2 separate regions of the Homo sapiens genome follow, and region 1 is linked to region 2. The links come from fine-mapping of genetic effects on gene expression. A gene starts in region 2. The other region holds a variant in brackets. All regions are shown on one strand. Distances are between the middles of the regions.

Evidence for each region. PIP is the estimated chance that this variant, and not a neighbour inherited with it, causes the effect.
Region 1: its variant is the best candidate, but not a certain one, in a credible set for the expression of RNF126 in whole blood (TOPMed, PIP 0.56).

What each region holds. Positions count from the first base shown.
Region 1 is chr19:692,734-695,632 of GRCh38, reverse strand. It overlaps PRSS57 (serine protease 57), which reads left to right and starts at 181. Exons shown (of 5, transcript NM_001308209.2): 1 at 181-281; 2 at 666-819. The coding sequence starts at 203. The variant G/C (reference allele first, on the strand shown) is at 1,141.
Region 2 is chr19:661,840-664,738 of GRCh38, reverse strand. RNF126 (ring finger protein 126) reads left to right here and starts at 1,525. Exons shown (of 9, transcript NM_194460.3): 1 at 1,525-1,692. The coding sequence starts at 1,618. RefSeq lists silencers at 1,199-1,678, 2,169-2,458 and enhancers at 2,509-2,558, 2,849-2,899.

The DNA.
Region 1 (2,899 bases), 31 kb before region 2:
ACAATGATTATTATCAACATGATTATTACCAGCCACCACCTGAGACCATCGATTTCTCAGAAACGCCCGCCTGGGCTCCAGGCGTTGCTGGTGGGGCCTCCCGACCACAGGCCACAGCCAGGCTCCCCCTTTCCGGCCGTTGGCTGAGGGTGGGAGCCACGGCCCGAAGACCTCTGCGGGGAGACGCCAGCCTGCGTCTGCCATGGGGCTCGGGTTGAGGGGCTGGGGACGTCCTCTGCTGACTGTGGCCACCGCCCTGATGCTGCCCGTGAAGCCCCCCGGTGAGGAGCCCCCCGGGATCCCCACCCAGGCCCCCGCCAAGTCCCCGTACGGGGGCCACACCCGGGAACCCCCAGTCCCGGGAGAACCCTGGGGAGAGCTCCACCTGCTCCATCTGCCGAGCCCCCGTGGCTGCCTCTGCTGGAAATGGATGGAAATCCGGCCGGGGTCTCTGCCCAGCCCAGCCCTGGATCTCCCGGGCTCGGGAGCCCCTCCCAGCGCATCTGGGGGGCTTGTCTGGGCTCTGTCTCCAGCTCTCTGGGTCTCTCCGTCTCTAATCTCACCCCCTGTCTCTGTCTTGGCCGCTACTTCTCCCCCTGCCCTGACCCCAGCCCCGTCATCCGTTCCTCCCGCCTCGTCCCTGACTCAGGCCGTCCCTCCAGCAGGCTCCTGGGGGGCCCAGATCATCGGGGGCCACGAGGTGACCCCCCACTCCAGGCCCTACATGGCATCCGTGCGCTTCGGGGGCCAACATCACTGCGGAGGCTTCCTGCTGCGAGCCCGCTGGGTGGTCTCGGCCGCCCACTGCTTCAGCCACAGGTGAGCTCACCTGTCGGGCCCCTTCTTTCTGGACACCGTATCCCGACATGAGGGGGACTCCAGGCTGGTGGGGGAGCTGGGGGCGCCGTGGCTCCTGCAGGAGGGGGAGTCTCAGCAGGGGCTGGATTTAAAGGGCAACAAAGGGAAAACAGGAGGATAAGGCAGGGAGGCAAAAGAAGCACAGAAGAAGCAACAGGCGCAACAAGTACATATTCTGTTACTGTAACTGTCACTATGTTCTTTTTTTTTTTTGAGGCAGTCTCGGTTCCCCAGGCTGGAGTGCAACGGTGCAATCTCGGCTCACTGCAACCTCCACCTCCC[G/C]GGCTCAAGCGATTCTCCTGCCTCAGCTTCCCGAGTAGCTGGGATCACAGGCGCCCACCACCACACCTGGCTAATTTTTGCATTTTTAGTAGAGACTGGATTTCACCATGTTGGCCAGGCTGGTCTCGAACTCCTGACTTCAAATGATCCACCCGCCTCTGCCTCCCAAAGTGCTGGGATTGCAGGTGTGAGCCGCCATGCCCTGCCTCGTTTTAAACATATTGTTATAATAACTATTAAAATGTATATTGGGGCCAGGGTGGGTGGGTCCCCTCCTGCAGGAGCCCCCACCAGGCACGGGATAGGTTGGTCCTGGGCTGCAGTGTCCCCAGCTCCCCCGCCAGCCTGCAGTCCCCCTCACGTTGGGACACGGTGGATTGTTTGAGGTCAGGAGTATGAGACCAGCCTGGCCAACATGGTGAAACTCTGTCTCTACTAAAAATACGAAAATTAGGCTGGGTGCGGTGGCTCATGCCTGTAATCCCAGCACTTTGGGAGGCCGAGGCAGGAGGATCACGAGGTCAGGAGATCGAGACCATCCTGGCTAATACAGTGAAACCCCATCTCTACTAAAAATACAAAAAAATTAGCCGGATGTGGTGGCAGGCGCCTGTAGTCCCAGCTACCCAGGAGGCTGAGGCAGGAGAATGGCGTGAACCCGGGAGGCGGCGCTTTCAGTGAGCCGAGATCGCGCCACTGCACTCCAGCCTGGGGGACAGAGCGAGACTCTGTCTCAAAAAAAAAATACGAAAATTAGTTGGGCATGGTAGCAAGTGGCTGTACGTATCCCCAGCTACTCGGGAGGCTGAGGTAGGAGAATCACTTGAACCCAGGAGGTGGAGGTGGCAGTGAGCCGAGATGGCACCACTGCACTCCAGCCTAGGGGAAAGAGTGAGATTCTGTCGGAAAAAAAAAAGTTAATTGTGGTTTTTGCCATTTAATTTTTTTCGTGCAATTACTTTTGCACCAACCTAATATTATCACGGGGCCGGCGTGAGCATTAAATGGATTACTGGGCCTCCATTTCATAGATGAGTGGACTGAGGCCCAGACGGGCAGCCGTCACCCCCATCTCACCCACCCCCTCCTCCCCGCAGAGTCCTCCGCACCGGAGCTGTGCTTCTGTGGTCCCAGCTACTTGAAAGGCTGCTGTGGGAGGATCGCTTGAGCCTGGGAGGTCGAGGCTGCAGTGAGCTGTGATCACACCACTGCGGCCTGGGTGACAGAGTGAGACCTTGTCTCAAAAAAAAAAAAAAAAAAAAGGCCGGGTGCGGTGGCTCACGCCTGTAATCCCGGCACTTTGGGAGGCCGAGGCAGGCGGATCACGAGGTCAGGAGATCGAGACTGTCCTGGCTAACACGGTGAAACCCTGTCTCTACTAAAAAAAAATACAAAAAATTAGCCGGATATGGTGGCGGGCGCCTGTAGTCCCAGCTATTCAGGAGGCTGAGGCAGGAGAATGGCGTGAACCCGGGAGGTGGAGCTTGCAGAGAGCCAAGATTGCACCACTGCAATCTTGCCTGGGTGACAGAGCGAGACTCCGTCTCAAAAAAAAAAATTAAAGAAATAAAAAAAGGAGAATATTGAAATTACTGTAGTTAATATTATAATTGAAATAGAACTTATAATAAATATAATAAGTATTATCTTCATTCTAAATATGTTTTTATAATAATGATTCAAATTAATACCACAACTATTGCAGTTAATTCTATATTGGAGGTAGGAAAAATAATAAACATAATTATTAATTTATTAT
Region 2 (2,899 bases):
ACCCGGGAGGCGGAGGTTACAGTGAACCGAGATTGCGCCATTGCACTGCAGCCTGGGCAACAGAGCCAGACTCCATCTCTAAAAAACAAACAAACAAACAAAAAATCTAAATGCACAGGCTCCAACTCTTAATTCCTCAACAGTCTCGCTCCAATGCCTCATTTTGCAGGAAGTCCAACTCCAACCAAATCCTATTCATCCCTCAGCCCTGGTTCCAATGTCCTTACCCCTCGGAAGCCCTCTCTCTCTTTCCCCAGGCAGAGCCAGAGTCACCCTTGAGTTCCACGCTCCTGTCCAATCTCATGGGACTGGGGGTATCTGCGTGCATTCAGCATAGGGTCTGGTGTGCAGTAGTTGCTCAATGAGTGTTGAGTGAAGAAAGAAATACACGCATGAGGCCGGGCGCGGTGGCTCATGCCTGTAATCCCAGCACTTTGGGAGGCCGAGGCGGGCGGATCACGAGGTCAGGAGTTCAAGACCAGCCTGGCCAAATATAGTGAAACCCCGTTTCTACTAAAAATACAAAAATTAGCCGGTGTGGTGGCGGGTGCCTCTAGTCCTAGCTACTCGAGAGGCTGAGGCGGGAGAATCGCTTGAACCCTCGGCAGGCGGAGGTTGCAGTGAGCCGAGATCGGGCCATTGCACCCCAGCCTGGGTGACAGAGTGAGACTCCGTCTCAAAAAAAAAAAGAAAAAAGAAATGCATGCATGATTGGGCCAGAACTAACCTCAGAAATGATCCTGGCCTGTGCTGGGTGATGATACCGTTTCTACTGATTAAATTTGGAAGCAGGGGTTAGGTTTCCTGCCTTCTCCGCACCCGAGAGGCGCCTGGGCCGTCAGCCCGTGGAGCATCTTGGAAACAAGGCCACAACCCACAGACCTCAGCCTCTGTCTGACCCCACGGGTCCCAGTGAGGCCCAGACAGCGCCCTGAGCCCCGGGTCTGCCTGTATTCCGCAGCGCTGAGGGAATGCCTGCTGTGTGTCAGGCGCTGCTGCGGGTCCAAAAATCCCTTTGCTGCGCAGCTGACCTGACAGTGCATCGGGAGGGAATCAGTGCCACGGAGCAGGAGGGCAGCAGAGAAGACCTTGTAAGCTGACATTTGAGCAAAGACCTGGAAGAAAGCCACGCGGGCGTCGGGAGAGCGCTGCACCGGGCAGCGGGCGGGGGAGAGGGCGCCTGGCGAGCCCCAGGAACGGTGGGGACAGTGGGCTGAAGTACCGTGAGGGGAGACGGCGATGAGGTAGGGAAGCACTGAGGGACACGAAGGCCTGGGCAGCTTCGGGAGGGGAGGAGGGCCTCGGCCCCGCCCCGCGCACGCCCCGCTTCTCGTCTCTTCCGCCGCCTGCTTTGGCCCCGCCCCCGCCGGAAGCCCCGCCCCCGCTTGGAGCCCCGCCCAACGGCCGGGCCTAGTTTGTCTCTCAGCGGCCACCGTCGCCCGGGCCGCTGCCCGCCGAGTACGCAGCTTTCGCCGCTCCCGCGCCCCCGCTCCGCCCCGCGTGCCGTGCGTGCCGTGCGTGAGCGTGCGCGGGCGCGTCGGCCGGCGAGGGAGCAGCAAACGGCCGGCGGCGGGTGCCGCGCGGGGGGCGGGCGGCGCGGAGTAGGTGGCGGCGGCCATGGCCGAGGCGTCGCCGCATCCCGGACGGTACTTCTGCCACTGCTGCTCCGTGGAGATCGTCCCGCGCCTGCCGGTGAGGCCCGGGCCGGGGCGGCGGGCGGCAGGGTCTGCGCCGCAGGCCTGAGGCAAGGCCGGGGCCGGGGTGGGGGTCGCTTGCGCCCGCCTCTTGCGCGAGCTGACCACGACGGGAAAACTGAGGCTCGGGGCAGCGCCGGCCCAGGCTGAATCCGCGGGGAGCCCGGGCGGTGCGCGCGCGAACCCCGTCCTGTACATGCGGGAGACTGAGGCCCGGGCGGGAGGCAGGGCCTGGCCGGAGCGGCGCAGCGGGATCGCGGCCGGGTGACCCCACATCCGCGGCGTTCCCGACCCGAGAGGCCGCGAGGATCCCAGGTGGGATCCCTAAGCCCGGTGAGCCTGGTTTTGCAAACGGAGAAACTGAGGCCCGGCGAGCAGAGAGAGGGTATTGCCCGGTGGCGCGGCGCGGGGCAGGGGCTGGGCCTGGCGGGGCTCGGACCCCGAGAATAACGCCAGGGGACCCCCGCCGAGCGCGTGGTTGGGGGCGCCGGCGCCTCGCTGCAGGCTCGCCTCGTGGAGCCCTGGCCGCCGCCTTGGAGGCAGGCCCAGGCCCGGAACGCCCCAGGCACTGTCCCGGGGTCCGACCGCGGCCCGCCGGCGGGGCTTTGTGAGCAGAGCCTGCGTTCCTCCCCTCCCGGGGCTTGGCTGCGCAGCCCACCCTTCCTCCAGGTGTTTACAGCCGCCCCTCACCGAAGAGGACCCTGGGCCTGGGCGTGCCGAGTGCTACTTCCTGCTCGTTTAGGGCAGTGTTTCCCACGCGGACCTGATGTCACCTTGGGGGAGGTGGGAGCAGCGCTCGTTGAAGGTGCTATTTCCAGGCCCCTTTTCCAGGGTTTCGGAGTCAGTAGGTGTGGAATGCGCTCAGCAGTCTGCATTTCTAATATTATTTTTAGGAATGGGGTCTCCCTGTGTTGCCCAGGCTGGTCTTGAACTCCTGGGCTCAAGCGATTCTTCTGGCTCAGCCTCCCAAAACGCTGGGATTACAGGTGTGAGCCACCGTGCCCGGCGGTGGTCTGCATTTTTAACCCGTGTTGCCCTTCGCCAGGCTGACGTGCAAAGTGGTGATTTAGTCGAGCCACCCGTGCTTTATAGATGGGGAAACTGAGGCGCGTGGTGGCTCAGCGGGAAAGTGGCAGAGCCGGCTCAGTCGGGAGCCGCTTGGCCAGCTTGAGGGGAGCAGCCGCAGGAGGTGGAGGGGTCTGGAC